Homo sapiens: one gene and its partner. The protein of the gene in region 2 interacts with the protein of the main gene of each other region in a pairwise test. Each region holds a gene or a part of one and is shown on either strand. Other genes may lie near its edges.

Region 1 (7,035 bases), on a different chromosome or scaffold from region 2:
CAATGAAATAAGATGTGAAACAATACAAGAAGTTATTATTTTTAGATGATGTGATTGTTTAATCTGCAAAATCCCAGAAAATCAGCTCACAGTAATTAGCTGGACTCACTAAATGTTTAAGAATCCATACCTCTTCTAGTTATAAAAGAAAATAGAGAAAAGAATCCAAGAAAGTATAGCTACAGATAAATAAAATATTTAGGACTATCCTTCAAAAAGTGAGTAGGACCTATGTGAAAAAAACTACAGGATAAAGACAGATTCTTCCTTCACAGTTTTGAATACATCTAGAATACATTTTGATAAGTTGATTTTTTTTTAAGTTAAAAACTATATAGATAAATGTTGACTTTCAGAATGGAAAAGGATTTTATAAGTATAAAAGGAGCAGAAAAGTAAAGCTAAAATATTGAATCTCTAAAAATTAGAAATTTCTGTATGTCAGTAAGTCATTGAACTGGGAGAAATATATGCAGAAAAGGTTACATTCTAAAATAGAAAAAAGCATTACACAGCAGTAATAACATTAATTCCTCCATATAAAGATTAACAATGTGTTATTATATTAACATTCTTTACAGATAGGTCTCTCCTGTATAAGTGTCTGCTTTATAAGGATGGAATCCATGGCTTCTTTATTTTCCTGTTTGACAGTAGCATGATGCTTTGTGTATAATGGCATTTGATACATACTTGTTGAATTAATATTGCCAGAAACCTTGTAGTTTGCCAGTTTGACTCTTGTTTACAGATTTATAAAGATACAAGAGATCTTTTAGCTTAAGTAACTTGTCCAAAATTACAGAATGAGCTGTTGACAGATCTGAGCTATCTGTAAGATGGGGCTGATAATAGTGTCTCAAAGTTGTTGTGAAGTTTGAGTGAGCCACTATATGTGGAACACTTAGCATAGTGCCTGAAACATAGTATGAAAGAAACATATCTGTTAAGATAAAAATGTGTATTAATTTAATGGAACAGCTCTCTGCTGCCTAAAATCACATACTCTCACCCCCAGATACTAACCATAGGCCTGTATGGTCACAGGCAGTTGAATAAAGATGTGAAATTTAATGCATGAAAATGTAGTGAGACATGTTACCACAAAATTGATATAAAGACCATGATGTCATGACTCAGTAGAGTAAGGCTGTGTGGTAACCTTATTTGATGTGGCCCTAAACAGTAGGGATACAAAGAAAACAAAGGTCATTAGAATACAGATAATTAACAAGAGCATACCATAGATCATGTTCATCAGCTGAAAATGGAATGCATCCTTAAAATGAAGGCTTTGAGTGACAGAATTGCCAGCACAGTCCTACTGTGTGAAAGAACTGAAGTTACAATCCATTCTTCACAGTGTGTCTGTAATGTGAGGACTGCTTTATATAGAAAAATCTTACAGTCACTTTTAAATATAGGGATATTGTCAGCGTTTTCTAACAGGAAGATAATTTTGTGCTTCATAAGTAAGAGGCCTTTTAATATCCGAATAGGCAGTTACTTGTAACTATACAGTAACTCAGTAATTACTGTCTTACATGCTTAGCTTGCTCTGTGTGACAGAGTATCTGTGTAGATAGGTCTGAGCGCCAAGATGGATGGGTGAAATGCTAAAGTGATAGTTTTACTCTTTTTGTTTGTTAAATTTAGGTCCACTTTAAAGCATAGGATTTTCAATGCTTTTCTAAAAATTCATTTTAAATTTCATTTGTAGGTGCTGTGTATGATGTGAGTCACTATAATGCTTTACTTAAAGTCTATCTTCAAAATGAATATAAATTCTCACCAACTGATTTCCTGGCAAAAATGGAGGAAGCAAACATTCAACCAAATCGAGTAAGTAGTTGCTATTGTGAATATATTTTCACATCCACCATTTTTTTTCTTTACTCAGAAAAAAAAGTATATTTAAAATTAACTGGCCCATTTCATTGACAGGTGACATACCAGAGATTGATTGCTTCTTATTGTAATGTAGGAGATATTGAAGGTGCCAGGTATGGATCTGTATGAACATGTTTAAGCGAACAAATTTGTACATTTTGTAAATCTAATGTCTGTTCACTCTTTGTTTTAAAGCTTCTTCCTAATGGAGGAAATTGTTTCAGAACTGTTTTAATCTAGAAAATCTGGTAATCTGACTTACATAAAATATAAAATTATCGTGTAAGAGAGAAAAGATAAGTAAAAGTTGCTATTTTAATTAAAAATTTGATTTACTGGAGAGAGGTATAAAGTTGTTGAGCTATAAAGCTGACTTTGCTTTTTTTTTTTTTTTTTTAAATATTTCCTAAGGGAAATGTTCTTAACCATTTAAGCTGTATTCATTTATAAAACTGGAAGTAGTGTAGAAAATCAGTTGCACCATTTCTCTGCTTATGTAAAATTTATTACTACTTATGAATGGAAGGTTTGGAAAATAAGGGATAAATTGGAATACATAATTTCATTTTTATCTAAAAGAATCTTATGAAACTATGCTTTTAAAAGGGTAATTAGTAGTGTAAGACAAATCAGATAATCAGATTTTTAAAAATCTAGTATTTGTATCGATAGTACTTCAAGACTGTTGATACATTAGAGAGTGGGGTTTTGTGGGAAGGGGATCAAAGGGATTAGTTCTTTCTTTGTGGTTTCTAAAACAAATGTATATTACTATTATATTTTAAAAACAAAAGTAACTCAAGGCCTAATTCTGTACATGTTGTAAAGAGTGTTCTTATAAATACTTTCAATGAGTATCTTCGTTTTTCCTTTGCAGCAAGATTCTTGGATTTATGAAAACTAAGGATCTCCCAGTTACAGAGGCAGTATTCAGTGCCCTTGTGACAGGGCATGCCAGAGCTGGGTAATGTTCAACCTAAGGTTTTGGTTCTTAAGTGATAGATGGCTGAGATGCTAAAGTGGTCATTTTACTCCTTTTTTGTTTGTTAAGTGGGGTTTAAATTAGAGAAAATTATTGTAGACAGTTCTTAAAATACATTTGTCTATCCCTTCAAAAAAAAATCTGTAGTATATGAGGTAGAGCATACTAATATTTTTATAATGAGCTTTTACATTTGTTCCACAAATCTTTCTTTTATTTGAATTTTTAGAAATTGGGCTTGAAGCCGGGCGTGGTGGCTCATGCCTGTAATCCCAGCACTTTGGGAGGCTGAGGTGGGCAGATCACCTGAGGTCAGGAGTTCAAGACCAGCTTGGCCAACATGGTGAAACCCGGTCTCTACAAAAATATAAAAATTTAGCCGGGCATGATGGCAGGTGCCTGTAATCCCAGCTACTTGGGAGTCTGAGGCAGGAGCGTTGCTTGAACCCGGGAGGCAGAGGTTGCAGTGAGCCGAGATTACACCATTGCACTCCAGCCTGGGAGACAGAGCAAGACTCCATCTCAAAAAAAAAAAAGAAAAAAGAAACTGGGCTTGATCTGATCTGAAGTAACTGCTCTGGAAAATATTTTTATTTTTGAAGAGTAATTTACTAAATGTTATTCTTACCTCGAAAGTTAAGTCTGAGTCATAACCTACATAATATTAAGAGGGTATGTTATTTAATGTCTATGTAATTATTATTATTTTTTAATGGGGGATCAGATGTTTATGATCTTTATTATTTCAGAAACATATATCCAGTTTAATATACATTAGTTCTTTTCTGACATCATAATTCCAAATGGTACTTAGCATTTTTTATTTTAATAAGCATATGTTTTAGTTTGAATAACTATATTAAATTTGGCAAAAGCATAATAATCTGTTTTTTGAATTAACTTGTAGTGATATGGAGAATGCAGAAAACATTCTCACAGTGATGAGAGATGCCGGAATTGAGCCTGGTCCAGACACATACCTCGCATTATTGAATGCATATGCTGAGAAGGGCGACATTGACCATGTTAAGCAGGTATGACTTATGTCTAAATAAACATACTTTAAAATCATTTGTAAAAATTTGTGTTATGTTTTACATGAGGCAGGAAAGTGAAGTTTATACCTGTTTTCAAAGATGTTTCCTTGCAGAAAGTAGTATTTATGGAGAATTATTATAGTTTAGTATCTCGGTGCTGGTATGTAACAGTTACTGTTGAAGTAGAGTATTTCCTGTTTTTTAAAAGAAGTCGTAAACCTTTAGGTGGTATTTTTCCCTAGTTTTTTGAATCTGGATATTTTATTTAGCTTTAATACTTAAATAAAAACACTCTAACTTTGTCTTCTAATTTCTGGAACTCTCTATAGACTCTGGAGAAGGTGGAGAAGTCCGAGCTTCACCTTATGGACCGTGATTTACTGCAAATTATTTTTAGCTTCAGTAAAGCTGGGTATCCTCAGTATGTCTCAGAAATTTTGGAAAAAGTTACATGTGAAAGAAGATATATTCCAGGTAGTTTTAAAAAAATCTATTTACATGATTTTTATAAAAATCTGAATTGCTATTCTTACATGATGGAAAGGACATTTTCTAACAATGGGCATTGTGGGAGTTGAACATAGAACTCTTAAAGTCAGTTAAATAAGCCCAAAAACATGAGTTAATGAACACATGGGGATGATTTGATTTGCAGGTGTTTTATTGTTATTTAGGCAGTTATATGCTTTTGATGTTTGCAATTCTTATTTTGTCTTCAGTATTGGAACATTGGTTGCAGTGTAAAAATATTGTTCAGTTTATTAACAAAAGATGTCTTTGTTTTCTTCCCAGATGCAATGAACCTCATTTTACTTTTAGTCACTGAAAAATTGGAAGATGTAGCGTTGCAAATTTTACTAGCATGCCCCGTATCAAAGGAAGATGGCCCAAGTGTCTTTGGCAGTTTCTTTTTACAACACTGTGTGACTATGAATACGGTATTCTGTCCACTTTTACTTTGTAGACAATGTAATTGGCAGTGAAATAAGATTCTTTAAAGTATAGGAACATTTATAAGATTAGACCAGTTGTAAACATCATAACAATGTTCTTGTGTTGCAAGATTTTTGGGTAGAAAGAGGATGCGGGGTTTAAAATGCTCATCTCAGAAGTGGTAGAATATTTGCAGCAGGTCAAACGGTGGGGTGTTTGCCAATCCAGCTAATGTGGTGACTTTTTTCCCACAGCCTGTGGAGAAGCTAACAGACTACTGTAAGAAGTTAAAGGAAGTCCAGATGCACTCCTTTCCTCTGCAGTTCACCCTCCATTGTGCTTTACTCGCCAATAAAACTGGTACTACATTCTTAAAGTTAAAGCCAAGTAAGGAAGTTTTGCTGAGGTAGCTTTGTGATCTTTTATGATATCTCTTTCAGATTTGGCAAAAGCCTTAATGAAGGCTGTGAAGGAGGAAGGTTTTCCTATCAGACCTCACTATTTCTGGCCATTGCTAGTTGGACGTCGGAAGGAAAAAAATGTTCAAGGTTAGATTTTGCCTTTTACCGATTTGTAATGGTTCCCAGAGCCAGTATGACAGTTTGCACGCACATCTAATTGGATTCTTTGGAAAAGCATACTTATTCCTGAGTATTATGAGATAATGGAATTGTTTTAAGTCATCATGAAGTATTATGTGTAAGCATTTTAAAAAACAAAACATGATGGATTTCTTTCATCTGAATTTCATTAATTTCATTTCTTATTTCATCTCTGATCTTGATATTCAAACTTAATGAACGTAGTTTTTTTAAGTTCTTAAAAAAACTCTTTAGTTCTTGATTTTATATATAGTGTTTGAAATCAGATTGTCTACCTTTAATAAAGATAAAGTTGTATATACAATTAGGTTCATGAAAACAAAAAGTATGGTCATTTTCTTTGTGGGCCAATCTATTTCTTTTTAACTGAGCTTAGTTAGAATAATAGGAAAGGCAGGAAAACTTTTATTGTGAAATGAGTACTCATGACCTGACAGCCTGCTGATTGAAGGACAAAAATGTTCAATCTTTCAGGTTCTTAAGTACGTTTAAGCATTTATCATACTTTTCCCTTGTACACATGGGATGTCTATAGGATATGAATAAGAATTGAACAAATATTAAATTTTAGAGTACAGTATCTAATTCTTCGGTTTGCATTATTGGTAATTCAGAAAGAGTAGTCTCATAAAAAGATGCTTTTAACAGAAGTACTTTCCCCTTGGGGAAACAAAAAATGGTCTTTTTCATTTTATCTCGAAGTATAATGTGCTTTGGAATGAGATGCAGAATTGTTAGTGTGACATTGGGTGACAAACAGAATGCACAAACAACAAAAAAAGTGCTTTTAGCAGACTTTCATATTGCAATTTTATTTTAAATGTACAGCCGTCTTCTGGTTTAAAGGAAATAGTGAAACAAGTATTCCCTAATTGTTTCTGGCTATAAAAGTCTCTAAATCCTTTTTAGAAAAATCTTTGTGAAAACAATATGCTAGTTTGATTAACTCTTTGTATATCCTCCAGTCTGAAAGCTCCAAAAGGTAACCTATAACCCAGTGTTTTGGAACCACAGAAAGTTTACATCATTCCATCAAACTCTTCAGGCATGTTAGTATTGTCCACCTTTACACAAGTATGAAAATTTTTTTGGTACCAGTTGAAATGTTTGTTCATCAGGTTAATCTGCTTTCCACAACCATGTCACAGTTGAATTGATTACTACATTTTTACTACTTAGTAAACATAAAAGAGTTAGGTAATTTCTTTCTATGGTTGTAGCAGTTGAAATAGTAGAAAATGGGCTTTATCTCAAATCCATCTTGTCTTAGAATCTCAGAATTTAGATTTTAAAAGTGCTGTACTGAAAGCTCACATTACGTGAATGAAGGAACTGAGGGCCACACAGACATTCAGTGACTGACCTTAGCTTCCACGTCTAGGTGTGATTAGGCTGGGATTAGAATAGAGGGTTTCTGTCCTCCTTTTAAAATATCCTTTTTTATACTATAACCCTTCCATATTCAGCTTTTGTAAGTACTATACTGTGTTTATTTTCTAAAAATTCTTAGCTGCTGTTTAAAAATTAGTTGCCAGTTTTTACACGAATAACATTGCTAAAAGAGAGTGAATTTTTTAATCGATGAAGGTTT
Region 2 (7,035 bases):
TTTCACCGTGTTAGCCAGGATGGTCTCAATCTCCTGACCTCGTGATCTGCCCGCCTCGGCCTCCCAAAATGCTGGGATTACAGGCGTGAGCCACCGTGCCCGGCCCCTAAAGATGCCTTTTGAGTTTCATGTTGTAGGCGTCTTGTCTTCAAGACATGCAGACAAAATGAATGTATTCATTCAACAAAGTGATTGAGTCTGTGTGCATGAACTGAGAGGACAGTGAGACGGAGAAGTCCCTCCTGTGGAGCTTTTATTCTCGTGGAGCAGAAACCAGGCATTTGGCCTTCCTGAGCGCCCGTCATGCCCTGTTCTTTCTGGTTGCATCCCATTTTAGAGCTTCCCAGCATGGCCAGTGATTCTGATGACAACCATCCCCTCCCAGTGTGTTTCACGTGCATCTGCCTAGAGTCCGTGAGCCACAAGCCGTCTCTCAGCCTCTTACGAATCGGGCAACCCACGGTTAAGGACATTTCCATTCTCCGGCCCACTGTAAGAGTGAATGTAGAGGTGCTAGGTTTTACCTTTGTGTCCGTGAAAGGGGTGAAAGGAAGTGTACAGGGACCCCAATGTCCTGCCCTCTTTCAGGGACTCAAACAATTTCCAGGTGGGGCTTGAATCACCACACATCCACCTTAATCTGACTCAGGCATGTTCTTCACATTAATACTGTCATTTCAGCTACTGAGTTATTTTTTCTCCTCTTTTTTTTTTTTTTTGCAGCAGAGCCGTTGCCTGGCCTTGAAGAGAAACCACCAGGTGTTGGTACTTCAGAGGGGGTCTACCTCACACAACTACCTCACCCCACACCTCCCCTGCAGACTGACTGCACCAGGCAGAGCTCACCACAAGAAAGGGAAACAGTGGGCCCGGAGCTCAAAAGCAGCTCCTCCGAATCTGCGGACAACTGTAAAGCAATGAAGGGCAAGAATCCCTGGCCCTCGGATAGCAGCTACCCCGGCCCAGCCGCCCAAGGGTGCGTGAGAGACCTCTCCACGGTGGCAGACAGGGGCGCTCTATCCGAGAACGGAGTCATTGGGGAAGCATCTCCTTGTGGATCGGAGGGGAAGGGCCTTGGTAGCAGTGGTTCCGAAAAGCTGCTCTGCCCCAGAGGCAGAACGTTGCAGGAAACCATGCCATGCACGGGACAGAACGCAGCGACACCGCCCAGCACAGACCCCGGTTTGACGGGAGGCACTGTGAGCCAGTTTCCCCCGCTGTATATGCCTGGCCTAGAGTACCCGAATTCAGCTGCCCATTACCACATCAGTCCAGGCCTGCAGGGTGTGGGCCCTGTGATGGGAGGGAAGTCCCCAGCATCCCATCCCCAGCATTTTCCCCCAAGGGGCTTTCAGTCTAACCACCCACATTCTGGAGGCTTTCCCCGGTATCGCCCCCCACAAGGAATGAGGTATTCCTACCACCCACCGCCACAGCCTTCCTACCACCACTATCAGCGAACTCCTTACTATGCCTGTCCACAGAGCTTTTCTGACTGGCAGAGACCTCTCCATCCCCAGGGAAGCCCAAGCGGACCCCCAGCCAGTCAGCCTCCCCCACCAAGGTCCCTCTTCTCAGATAAGAATGCCATGGCCAGTCTGCAAGGCTGTGAGACACTGAATGCTGCCTTAACTTCTCCAACCCGTATGGATGCAGTGGCTGCTAAAGTCCCAAATGACGGGCAGAATCCTGGTCCAGAGGAAGAGAAGCTGGATGAATCTATGGAGAGGCCAGAGAGTCCCAAAGAATTTTTAGACCTGGACAACCATAACGCAGCTACCAAGCGGCAGAGCTCGTTGTCAGCCAGCGAGTATCTCTATGGAACTCCTCCGCCTCTGAGTTCAGGAATGGGATTTGGTTCATCTGCATTTCCACCCCACAGTGTGATGCTGCAGACGGGGCCTCCCTATACCCCTCAGCGGCCGGCCAGTCACTTTCAGCCCAGGGCTTACTCTTCCCCTGTGGCTGCCCTCCCACCTCACCACCCAGGGGCCACCCAGCCCAACGGCCTCTCTCAGGAGGGTCCCATCTATCGCTGCCAGGAAGAAGGCCTGGGTCACTTTCAAGCTGTGATGATGGAACAAATTGGCACTAGAAGTGGAATAAGAGGACCTTTCCAGGAAATGTACAGACCATCAGGGTAAGATTGCATTCAGGCTTTTCCCCCTAAAGAGAGAACAGATGTTTATTTTATGTATTTATTTTTGAGACAGAGTCTCACTTTGTCACCCAGGCTGGAGTGCAGTGGTGTGATCATGGCTCACGGCGGCATCGACCTCCCAGGCTCAAGGATCCTCCTGCATCAGCTGTTTAAGTAACTGGGACTACACACATGCCACCACACCCAGCTAACTTTTTGGTTTTTTTTTTTTTTTTTTTTTGGTGGAGGTAGGGTTTCACCGTGTTGCCCAGGCTGGTCCTAGTCTCCTGAGCGCAAGTCATCCTCCTGCCTCAGCCTGTCAAAGTGCTGAGATTACAGGCATGAGCCAGCACACCTGGCCTGGATGTTCATTTTAAACAGAAAAATGGCCTTAGAGATGAAGATAACAGTTCATGGTCTAGGAACAAAAAAAATATGTGAATTATTGATGTTGTACACTCTGTAGGAAGGTATTAAACTTAGAGCCCAACTTTATCTTTGAAATTTTTTCCACTCATGAAAATGAACTGGCATTTAAATGACTGACTTAGATTTTGATATTGTAAACTTTATTTATTTATTTATTTATTTATTTATTTTTGAGATTAAGTCTCACTCTGTGGCCCAGGGTGGAGTGCAGTGGTACGATCTCTGCTCACTGCAATCTCTGCCTCCCAGGTTCAAGCGATTCTCCTGCCTCATCCTCCCAAGTAGCTGGGATTACAGGTGCCCGCCACCACACCTGGCTGAGTTTTGTATGATACTATAAACTTAATAACCACAGTTTGAGAGCTGTAAGCAAGCCTGTGTCAACATTGCTGCCATGTGGAGACACTCTGACCAAGGTAAAAAAAAAAAAAAAAATAGGCCTACCCAGGAGTAGAAGAGGAGATCATGTAGTATTGAAGTTTTACTACATACCTCTCATTTCTTACCCTATCATTGAATGAGAAAACCAGGTTTATCCAGAATGCAAACAAGTCCCCATGAGACTTCTTTCACACATGCTTGTGTAGTGTTGTTCTCCAGATCCAGTTAGGTGATCTGCCATCCAGGAAGTTTTCAAATCGATAGATACAAATGAAAGTTATGAAGCGGCCAGGCGCGGTGGCTCACACCTGTAATCCCAGCACTTCGGGAGGCCGAGGCGGGCAGATCACGAGGTCAGGAGATTGAGACCATCCTGGCTAACACGGTGAAACCCCGTCTCTACTAAAAATACAAAAAATTAGCCGGGCGTGGTGGTGGGCACCTGTAGTCCCAGCTACTCGGGAGGCTGAGGCAGGAGAATGGCGTGAACCTGGGAGGCGGAGCTTGCAGTGAGCCAAGATCATGCCACTGCACTCCAGCCTGGGCAACAGAGCAAGACTCTGTCTCAAAAAAAAAAAGTTATGAAGCATAGTCTTGAAACCAGTACCATTCAGCATAAAAACCAGTGTTCCCCTCCTCAGTGCCATCCTGTCATCTTATTGCTAGACCCTCTCTACTATTTAACATTTTGTCGTGTTTGCTTTATATGTCTCTAAATACCTGTTTTCTTTGCTTTGCTTTTTTTCCTAAGCTGTTGGAAAGTAAATTGTAGACATCATGGCCCTTAACCCCTCAATACTTGAGCATGCATCTCCTAAGAATGGACATGCCTTGGAGCACCATTTCAAAACGATTACCACACTCAAGGCAAATAACAGTATCTAATAGAGTTTTTGTTTCTGTTTCCTCAGTTGTCCCCAGAGTGTCTTTTAGAGTCGTTTCTTTGTGTTCTATTTTTATTGTTTTTTTCTGATAAAGGATCCAATGAAGGCTCATGGATTTGCATTTGGCTGCCGTGTCTGTTTAGTCTCTTAATTTATAGCAGTTGTCATATCTTTGTTTTGTTTTCCAAAGAGTCCAGGCCAGTTATCATGGAGAGTGTTCCAGATTCCAGATTCATCACACAGTCTCCTTGTGTGTAGATGAAACTCTTGTGCCAGGTGCAGTGGTTCATACCTATAATCCCAGCACTTTCGGGGGCTGAGGCAGGAGGATTGCTTAAGCTCAGGAGTTCGAGACCAGCCTCGGCAACATAGTGAGATCCTGTCTCTAGTGAAAATAAAGAACTTAGCCAGGCATGGTAGCACACACTACTCAGGAGGGTGAGGCAGGAGGAGCACTTGAGCCCAGAAGATTGAGGCTGCAGTAAACCATGATCCTGCCACTACATTCTAACAGGGTGACAGAGCAAGACCCTGTCTCTAAAAGAAAAAAAAAAATAGATTAAACACTTTTGTCAGGAGTGCAGTAGGTGGTGCGTGTGCGTGCCACTTACTGCCCCAGGGGGCACAGAATGTCGAGTTGTCCCAGTATGGATGATTCCAGGCCTGATCACCGGGGTGATGAAGGCAGTACCCTCGTGACTACAGTGTCTTGTTTCTTCTGTCGTTAACACGTCTTCATTAATTCTTCATTGCTTCTTTCTCGTGGCTGTAGAATGCAGATGCACCCGGTCCAGTCGCAGGCCTCGTTCCCAAAGACCCCCACAGCAGCAACATCACAGGAGGAGGTGCCGCCTCATAAGCCTCCAACACTTCCCCTGGATCAGGTAAGGATCACTAAAAATTAGAGCTGTTCTTCTTCCTCCAGGTGGTAGGAAGTAAGTATATGACAACCTTGCTGTTCTGAAAAAATGTTTTAAGGTATCCTGTGGATACAGGAACTTTGCCTGTATCGTGCTTCCTTGGCACTTGGAAAAAGAGCAAGAGGCCTCGGAAGTCACCTCTCACATGTCTCTTTTTCTTATTGTGATATGGAATGCATACCTATTTGGTGAGTATTTAAACCTCATTTTTTCCAAGCCATCTGCAAACATTTTTTCTGCCATGATCCCTTGTCTGTTTTATGCTTCCCACCTTTCTCATTGGAGAGAGACTAGTTGGTGGGTTTTAAAGTAGTAATAGCTGCCTCTGAGTGCTGCTTCTCTCCCATGCGTTGTCTCGTGCAGTGCTTCTCTCCCATGCAGTCTTTCCCTTGACCCCCACAAAGTAGTTCTCATTGGCTGCATCATCATCATTTCCCAGTGTGCAAGTCCTACTACTGTTAAGCACTGGGACTGGGATCTGAATTGAGAAGTCCAGGACTCTAGAACCTACCCTCTGGAAGTAAACTGTAACTGATGAAACAGAATCAAGCCATTTTCACACATGAGGAGCTTGGACATTCTTTGGCTTACTTAAGTTTTTTTTTTTTTAACAACCCAATTTTTATTTTTGTTTAAAATGTCTTTGTTTCTTTCAGAGCTAGTCCAAGGAGGAAATGAGCCCCAAGCAATGGAAAGCTGCACACGAAGACTGGAATGTGGAGAACTGGGGAGTGCCCTGTCAGCTCTATTCCCATCACCTGCTCCACCCCTTCACGGCGACCCACTCGTGCCATACTTGAGCTGGAGCCAGTCACGGGCCCTAAAAGGACACTCCTTAGATGACTGACACACAGATTGCAAAGGTCCTCGGCCAGGGATCTCTTGCACAGCTGATGTAGACAGTCAGGCAAAACTAATGAACGTGGAGTTAATGATGACTTTTCCAAATCCTGAGACACTTTTCAGGGAAAATCACTTTAAACTTGGGGGAGGGGGTATACTCAAGAATGGAGTGGTGCTTTTAAACTTTGATGAGCAGCTAAACTCAGGTATATATTTGGGGAAGGGACTACTCTTAGTATTAATGGTTTTGGAGCTGGGTCCAGTTTACAGAATTTTCATGTTGCCTTTTAAAATAATTTTTGTTGGTGGTGAATGTATTGTACATAAAGTGGGAAGGGTGGGTGGGGATGCGGAAGAAATGGGGGTCCTAACTGGTGGGCACACAGCACTGGAGTGATTTTTATCTGTTTACAATCATGTCACACTGAATACTTATGGGAGCCGGAGATGAGGGTAGGAAAGGTTTGATCTTGTAATATGTCACTGTGTTTCCTTAGTGGCCAGCCAGCCTTCAGAATAGCTAAAGGCCTTCCTTCCTTCCAGTCAGCCTGAGAGAGAACACCTGTCCCCTAAGCACCTGGTGTCTCCATTGGAGGCAGACTGCTCTCAGGAGACTACTAGAAGCTTCAGCCCGGAAGACAGGCTGCTCTCTCATGCTGGTGGCCCAAATTGAGAAAGTGGTGTCCCTTCCTGATTTTGCCACCAGCCCTACCGAATAGTTGTAAACCAGTATCAGGAATTGGGATCGCTAGAGTGTTTCACGTATTAGAAGATGAATCGTCCTCATCACAGACCTCCCTGTCAGGACTGTGATCTAGAAGGCATCACACACAGCTTTCTGGCACGAATCACATTTTGTGGAAGTGACTACTCAGGTTTGTATATTTTAGTATCAATAAAGAATTGCACAGGTTTGAATAGGAAAAATGTATTCTATAGATTTACAGTTTGAATTTAGGAATATTTCAGTATATATAGTTTTTATTCGTTTTAAGTGAATCATAGTAAAATCAGTCATGGTGATTTAAAATAGCTATCAAGAACAAGTTCTTGGAATTATCTGTTGTATCTGTGATAGGAAACCATTTTACAGTATTAAATTACTTTATTACAGTTGTAGAGTTGAATTACACTGGATTCTCCCTCGTTAGCATTCTGTATTTGATTTTAGCTGAAAGGTCACCAAAGTTAGGACCCATGTTTTAAACTTTTGAATATTCCACAAAAGAAAAAACTAAGGAAAATACTGAAATTACAGGTCTTTGTAAAGAATAGCATATTTTTAAGCATGCTTTTGGGATAGTAGAAGAGTCTCTATGAAATATTAATCTGCCCTAGTTTCTTATAAATTCAGCTGTGGGAGGGGCCAGTAGAGTGTTTCCCTCCAATTCCAGGATTCCTAGTGAAGCATGGAACTGTCGTGTTTACAGTTTGCTAA

What was found.
Region 1: the proteins of CECR2 (region 2) and LRPPRC interact in a two-hybrid assay, tested with the Homo sapiens proteins (one study listed by BioGRID).

What each region holds. Positions count from the first base shown.
Region 1 is NC_000002.12:43,971,962-43,978,996, reverse strand, and holds part of LRPPRC (leucine-rich PPR motif-containing protein, mitochondrial precursor), read left to right. Parts: intron 1-1,720; coding exon 1,721-1,842; intron 1,843-1,944; coding exon 1,945-2,003; intron 2,004-2,767; coding exon 2,768-2,854; intron 2,855-3,779; coding exon 3,780-3,906; intron 3,907-4,238; coding exon 4,239-4,383; intron 4,384-4,701; coding exon 4,702-4,847; intron 4,848-5,096; coding exon 5,097-5,202; intron 5,203-5,282; coding exon 5,283-5,390; intron 5,391-7,035. UniProt on the Homo sapiens protein: May play a role in RNA metabolism in both nuclei and mitochondria. In the nucleus binds to HNRPA1-associated poly(A) mRNAs and is part of nmRNP complexes at late stages of mRNA maturation which are possibly associated with nuclear mRNA export.
Region 2 is NC_000022.11:17,547,425-17,554,459, forward strand, and holds part of CECR2 (chromatin remodeling regulator CECR2), read left to right. Parts: intron 1-723; coding exon 724-2,140; intron 2,141-4,606; coding exon 4,607-4,718; intron 4,719-5,410; coding exon 5,411-5,416; 3' UTR 5,417-7,035. UniProt on the Homo sapiens protein: Regulatory subunit of the ATP-dependent CERF-1 and CERF-5 ISWI chromatin remodeling complexes, which form ordered nucleosome arrays on chromatin and facilitate access to DNA during DNA-templated processes such as DNA replication, transcription, and repair.